Linked DNA regions of Homo sapiens. The protein of the gene in region 1 interacts with the protein of each later gene in a pairwise test. Each region holds a gene or a part of one and is shown in the gene's direction. Other genes may lie near its edges.

What was found. Proteins that work in one complex are often made in the same cells at the same time.
Region 2: the proteins of TTC32 (region 1) and PRDM14 interact in binary tests that used the Homo sapiens proteins (3 or more experiments, as listed by UniProt).

The regions. Positions count from the first base shown.
Region 1 is NC_000002.12:19,896,087-19,899,044, reverse strand, and holds the end of TTC32 (tetratricopeptide repeat protein 32), read left to right. Parts: intron 1-1,009; coding exon 1,010-1,176; intron 1,177-1,918; coding exon 1,919-2,058; 3' UTR 2,059-2,414; downstream 2,415-2,958.
Region 2 is NC_000008.11:70,068,453-70,072,553, reverse strand, and holds the start of PRDM14 (PR domain zinc finger protein 14), read left to right. Parts: upstream 1-1,301; 5' UTR 1,302-1,404; intron 1,405-2,669; 5' UTR 2,670-2,693; coding exon 2,694-3,393; intron 3,394-4,021; coding exon 4,022-4,075; intron 4,076-4,101. UniProt on the Homo sapiens protein: Transcription factor that has both positive and negative roles on transcription. Required for the maintenance of embryonic stem cell identity and the reacquisition of pluripotency in somatic cells.

The DNA.
Region 1 (2,958 bases):
GCTTTTATTTACACTAACTGCCTTCACAGATACTTTCGGAGGACTATACTTTTTACTACGGGGTATTACAAAGAAGTGACAGATGAATTCTCTGTTTGGTTCTAATTTGAGAATTGCTTTGGGAAAAAAGAAAGGGAAACAGAATCATCCCTGACTCAGAGCAGAGGCACTAATGTTCTCTGTGCAGACTATTTGTCCTGTGCAGAGAAAGGTTCAAGGCAGCCAGGGGCTGTGACCTGTTGAGCTGGTGGCTGGTCAGAGCTACCTGGCTGTACAGCCCAGGAATGGCTGCTAATTTAAAGCTCTTTGGGCAACCTCTAGTTCCCTCAGGTGCAGAGCCAGTTCTGCACAAAGGACATCAAAATTGACTGGAGCCCTGAGGGGGTCTAAAGGAGCCCACCCTCCTAGCAGGAAGCCAGCCTGGCATTGGGGAGGATGCCAGCTGAGGCTGGAGGGAGGGCAACTCTGTCCCCAGAGATAACTTCCTGGGGATCGTAGCATGTTGAATTTTCACTTAGCGTTAACTTTAGTTTTTTATTGGTGGAAAATGATTTCAAATCTTATTGTTTTAAGATCACTTAAAAATTTGAGAATGAAATTGATTCACATTGTGACATATCCATAGCAAACTCGGGCTTTGGGCTGGCTTTCCCTCTTTGCTTAGTATTTATCTGTTCTGTCTTCTTTGCCCTGCTGGTGTGTGCTTAGAAAAATGAACAATCATTTTAATGTTATATTCAGCAGAACAAATTGGCAGTGAACACACTGTAAAGTTAGTATGCTTTTCAGGTTGACATTGCAGTGGTATAACCCTACAAAAGTAGATAACAGGGTTAAACAAAAATTGATTTTAGCTCTTTATTTGTACGTTTTTTCTTCAGCTTGGATTTTCAGTGTTGATGCTGCATGTTATAGGCTGTGAAGTTTGACAATACCCAAAAGAGAATGAAAGTGGAAATGAGAGGAATTTGGTAACACGGTGTTTTTAATGTGAACTTTTTGTTTAAAGCAAATGCAGCCCTGAGGATTTGGCTACTGCATATAACAACAGGGGGCAAATCAAGTACTTCAGGGTTGATTTTTATGAAGCCATGGATGACTACACATCTGCCATAGAAGTCCAACCCAATTTTGAAGTTCCATATTACAACAGAGGGTTGATACTGTATAGGCTGGGTAAGAATTTTTTTTCTTTTTGAGTTTTGTCATTGACTGTATTCTGTTATTTCAGAGCTTTCAAATGTTGTAAAACTAACGTGGTAATCAAATTTTAAAGTTCTGTGAAATTTAGGTTTAGAGCTTGGAACAAAGGAAGTGTCCCTGAGTTTATTTTAGGCTTTTGATAGGCGTTATAGATCACAGCAGAGCACTGGGGTGGGAATTGGACCTGGGCGCAGGAGCAGGGGTGACCCCATTACTTTGTGCTTGTGCATTCCCAGCTGTGAAATGAGGGCAATTCAGATGTTCACCTGTGAAACTTTTCTGAGTTAAAATCTTTGAAGACACACAAGACAATAGAAAGTGAAGTTTAGATTCTTGGATTAAAGGGACCATAGGTAGTGTTTCTTCATTTAAAGTGTCAAAAAGAAAATTAGTTCCCGTTTCTTAATTTTACTGCAATTATGTAAAACAGGTGATACAGTTTTATTAAAATTTTAAGATGATTGATAATATTTACCTGTTAAATCTCAATAAATAAACCCATAGCTAATTTTAGGTGTATTATTCCCTAAGGGCACACAAAATTACTTTGATATACACATCTCTATATTATTAAGATAAAAAGATTCCTTTACTAGAAGTGACTGAAAGCTCATAAATATAAAAGCAAAAGTACATGTATCAAAGCTTTTCCATGAATAATATATAGAAATACTCGGTTTCTTTTCTCTTTTCCATTTTTTGGGTTCTGGTACAGGATATTTTGATGATGCTTTGGAAGATTTCAAGAAGGTCTTAGACTTAAATCCTGGATTTCAAGATGCTACTTTGAGCTTAAAACAGACTATTCTAGACAAAGAAGAAAAACAAAGAAGAAATGTTGCAAAAAATTATTGATATTTTTAACTTAATGGAAGTATTGATTCATGATCCTTACATCTGCATCTAGTTATCAGTAATTTAGATATTGAGCTATTTTGATTTATATTTAAGAAATTAATACATTAGCACTGAAAGTTAAATAGTGTGTTTAAGGTAGTTAATTTCAGGTTGAATGGGTTTTTTTTAATGAAGTGTAAATAATACCAATGTATAAGTGTATATTATTATATTAAATATTATAGTAAAAAGGAATGTGTGGTATTTTCTTCAGCAAAACTATTTTTGTGATTTTTTTATTCTCAACTTTTTATTTAAAAAATGTTACATCTGCAGAAAAGTTGAAAGTATAATAAACTCTTCAGTTAAATTCATGAGTTGTTAATATTGTGCCACATTTGCTTTTTCTATTTAAATATATAACTTTTTGCTGAAACATTTGAAAATAAGGTGACGAGGTCACAGTACTTCGCCCCTAAATATTTCAGCCTACATTTTCTAAGATTGAGGACATCCTCCTTTATAACCACAATACCATTATAATACCTAATAAAATGAATAATTCTGTAATGTCAGCCATATCCAGCCCATATTCCAAAGTGTGTAGATTTTTATTTGGATCTAGAGCCAATCAGGTTTCAATTGCATTTTTTTTTTTTATGTTTCTCTCAGTTCTTTTAATCTAGTCCCCTGTCCATTTTCTTGCCCTAGCATTGGCTTTGAGAGAAAGGCTATTTTATATAGCTAGGCTAGAGAGACATAACATTTAGGCTTAAAAATAAACATGTCCTACAATTTGAAAGAGTTCAGCTTGAATTACACTTGATTTTCTCAAGTAATCATTGATAAAAATAGGTTAAGATTTAAATATTGAACATATTTTCTGTCTCTGGATAATGACAATTGTTATCAACATTT
Region 2 (4,101 bases), on another chromosome or scaffold:
AGGGCCACCCGGTGCAGCAAAGGGGGCAAGCAGGCGGCAGGGCGCGCGGGGAGACAAGGCTGAGTGCACGCCGCCCGCGCCCTCGAAGGCTCTAGTCCCACTCCTTCCTCCCTTCTTGCAGCCCCGCCGCGCCCTGGCGAAGGCTACAGGGTCAGGTTCCCCGCACCGAGGAGCCCAGAAGCCCGGCTGCGGGCGCTCTGAAGATCCGGGACCCCGGCCTCCGTCCCCCGCCAGCTTTAGGGACTCTGGCGGCGTCTCTTAGCCGGGTAGATGTTCCTCCTTTCCCTCTCTCTTCCAAGCCGCTGCCAGGCCGGGGGTGAGGCTGCACCTCAGTCTTCAGCCCCGAAGGCCGCGCCCGGGGCGGGTCGCTCCCCATTCAGCTAAGAGGAAGCAGCGGCCGGGGGGCAGGCGAGGAACCTGTCCCGGCTCACCCGGCAAGACTGCGTTTCCCCCACCCTCGGCGCTTCTTTCTGTGAATGTGAATGGAACTAAGCGTTCCTTTCTCTCCCTCAATGGCCGGCGAGGAGAATTCAAATGCGGTCTTTGGGCGCTCGGTATGGGTCTGGACCTTGGTTTTCAGAGCCTGCGCGTCCAAGGTCGCTAGCCTTTCCCGAAGGAAGTGACAGCTGCGGCGGCGCGGGAGGCCCATCCTCGGTCGTTTAAAGCCACTTAAGGAATAAAAGCCCCCGAGAGAGCAAAACGACCACCCGAAACCTCGGAAGCGTCGGGGGTGCCGGGCCCAACGCTCCCACGTGTCACTGCCGGGGACTCGCGAGGCGAAGCTTCCCAGCGCTCAAGGCGCTCCCGCCTCGTCCCCAGGTATCAGGAACAGACACCCACCAGGTCCACCAGCGGGTCAGACGCCGCCTTCGGGCAGGCTGGGATCTTCCGAACTGGGAGCGGAGAGTAAGGGGCTCGACCCCGGGACGCGAGTCCGGCCTTCTGGACTCCGGTTCAGGGTGTGTGTGCGCGCGGAGGGGCTTATCTGGGGGCCCTGGGTAGCACACGTGTTCGGTTTTTTTCTCCCCGACTCCGCACGCCTGGAGCGGCAATACTGCCTGCCCTAGAAGGCCAGCGGCGAGTGCTCGCCACTAGGGTCCCAGGGAGGGTTTGGAAAACTGATGAGTTAAGTGAGCGACCCCAGGGGACAGAGGGCGAGTCGAGAGTCGGCCAATGGCTGCGGTGGGCGGGGAGAAGACGACGCGGGGATCTGCGTGGGCCGGGTCAATTCCCTACCCTCGACCTGTCGATGCCCCGCGGCCCCGCCCGCCCTCTTAAGCCTGGCTCAGCCCTCAGGGCCCGCCCGAAGTCTACCGAGCCCGAGTGGCCTACCGAGCCCGAGTGGCCCCGCAGCGTCCAGGAGGCGCCCGCTCCGCGGTGGCGCTCTTGGAGGTGGTGTCGGAGGTAGGCACGGGACAGGACGCGCCTGGGGCCCGGGGCGGTGGTCTTCCAGGGCCGTTGGGGAGGGCGGCAGCACTCGCTGGCGCAGTTCGTTTTGGATGGTCGTTCTGCCCTCTCGGGGGCTTTGAATCCCAAGTTGCAGATCCCTGAGGTCGGAGGAGGCTAGGAGAAGGGCGCCTTTGGAGGATCGGGAGGAGACGGGCCGCTGCCTGTGTCGTGGCTGACCTCTTCTCCTGACCCCGTGTTCTTTAATTTCTGAGTCATGACCCTGCTTGGTTTTCTTATTGGGCTCATTGATCTCAAGACCCGCCGGCCCTGAAGGGGCTTCATTCTTCAGCCTCGGTGAACTTGCTGCCTGTCTATTAAAACGCCATCCTTTCCCGGCGGTGCGGGGGCGGGAGGACTGGCAGTCGCCGAGGCTCTTCGCTCCCACCTGGCCAGGGCTCGTCCACGCGGCTCCCGAGGGGCTACCCCAGGCCCCAATAGTCCTGGTAGAATGATTGGAGTTTCCGAGGAACCCGGGGAATGTGGCGGACGCTGCCCGCGAGGGAAAAGAGGTTCAGGCGGCGCATCCTAGGGCAGCCAAAAGTGGCGCGCCCCTCCCCTGCGGGCAGTCAGGACCGCCAGGACCCGCGGGGTCACACCGCTGGGCCAGAGCAGGTCGCGGGGTCCCTGGACCTGCCCGGGGGCTCTGGGAGCGCGTCTCCATCTGCGCGGTGCGACCCAGGGTCCTCGGCTCTTCCCTCCCAGCCGAGGGCCCAGGAGCGCCTGGAGCTGTCGCTTGCTCCATTGCCCTCCGACCGCCTGCGCTCGGCTCCCGGCCCAGCCCCGAGGTTGGCAGGGCCCCGCGGCTCCCACAGACCCTACCAACGAGTTTTGTAGGACTGAGAAGAAGGAAGGAAAGGGAACTTCAATGGGTTTTGCAGGAACCGGGTTGGGGGCCGAAAGCGGAGAGCGGGTGTGGGAAGGCGGCCGGGCTTAGGGAAGGGGTGCTTGGAGAGGGAAGGGGAAGGCAACACTAACCCGGAATTTAGAGTAGGGCAGGATCCCGGCAGATTTCCGTTTGGGGCTTTTTTGTGTTTGCTTCTATTGCTGTTTTTTCGTTTTGTCTTAATTGTGGGAGCGGGCTGGCGGGATCGGACTGGGGGCGTTTATCCTGTTCCCTTGGATCTGGGGCTGGCTGGGGTGGAGGAGGCTGGTGGGGAGGCGCGGGTCGGACCCCGGGAAGCTCCCGCGCGGTGTCCTCAGCGGCGCCCGCTTTTCTGCAGAGCCGCCGAGCGTGCGGTCCCGGGATGGCTCTACCCCGGCCAAGTGAGGCCGTGCCTCAGGACAAGGTGTGCTACCCGCCGGAGAGCAGCCCGCAGAACCTGGCCGCGTACTACACGCCTTTCCCGTCCTATGGACACTACAGAAACAGCCTGGCCACCGTGGAGGAAGACTTCCAACCTTTCCGGCAGCTGGAGGCCGCAGCGTCTGCTGCCCCCGCCATGCCCCCCTTCCCCTTCCGGATGGCGCCTCCCTTGCTGAGCCCGGGTCTGGGCCTACAGAGGGAGCCTCTCTACGATCTGCCCTGGTACAGCAAGCTGCCACCGTGGTACCCAATTCCCCACGTCCCCAGGGAAGTGCCGCCCTTCCTGAGCAGCAGCCACGAGTACGCGGGTGCCAGCAGTGAAGATCTGGGCCACCAAATCATTGGTGGCGACAACGAGAGTGGCCCGTGTTGTGGACCTGACACTTTAATTCCACCGCCCCCTGCGGATGCTTCTCTGTTACCTGAGGGGCTGAGGACCTCCCAGTTATTACCTTGCTCACCCAGCAAGCAGTCAGAGGATGGTCCCAAACCCTCCAACCAAGAAGGGAAGTCCCCTGCTCGGTTCCAGTTCACGGAGGAGGACCTGCACTTCGTTCTGTACGGGGTCACTCCCAGCCTGGAGCACCCAGCCAGCCTGCACCATGCGATTTCAGGCCTCCTGGTCCCCCCAGACAGCTCTGGTAAAGGGAGTTCACACCATTTGGGAGTCGAATTGGACGGGAATGCAGGCGGGAACGGGAGTGTCCGGGAAGAGGCGCTTCCAGGTGGAGCTGAGGCTGCAGAGTGCGGGAAGGGGGAAGTACCTCCATGAGAGCCAGGGCTGTTCTAGGCTCACTTCTGAGGCCCTGCTTGCTTAACTGCATGACTAAGGTTGGTTTTAGTGAGAGCTGAGGACCAAGAGAGAAATGGTTCCTGCAGCGAACTCCCAGGTAGGTTCAGATTCTATGCTAACATGCAATGACAGCCTTCAGCAGTTCACACCTAACAGTCCCAGCTCAGCTAGCTACGCTGACCTTAGTCAGGCATTACCTCTGATCCTCAAATTCCTTGAATTTGCCTAATGGGGTTAATTACATAAACTTCCATGAGGCTGTTCTGAGTCTCAAATGAGAAATTGTATATGGAATTGTTTACAGTGAAATCGTGTATGAACAGACCATGTAAAATGAGCAGGGAAAAATAGAAACAACAAATAAATATCAAACTGGGATGATGGTTACCTTTAGGGAATTAAGGAGGGAAACACCTCATAAAAGCACTTTATAATGCATTTTTAATGAAAAATTGTTTTAACCTGCCTTTTGCTAGGATCTGATTCTCTTCCTCAAACTCTGGATAAAGACTCCCTTCAACTTCCAGAAGGTAGGCAGGACTCCTTGCATGGATTT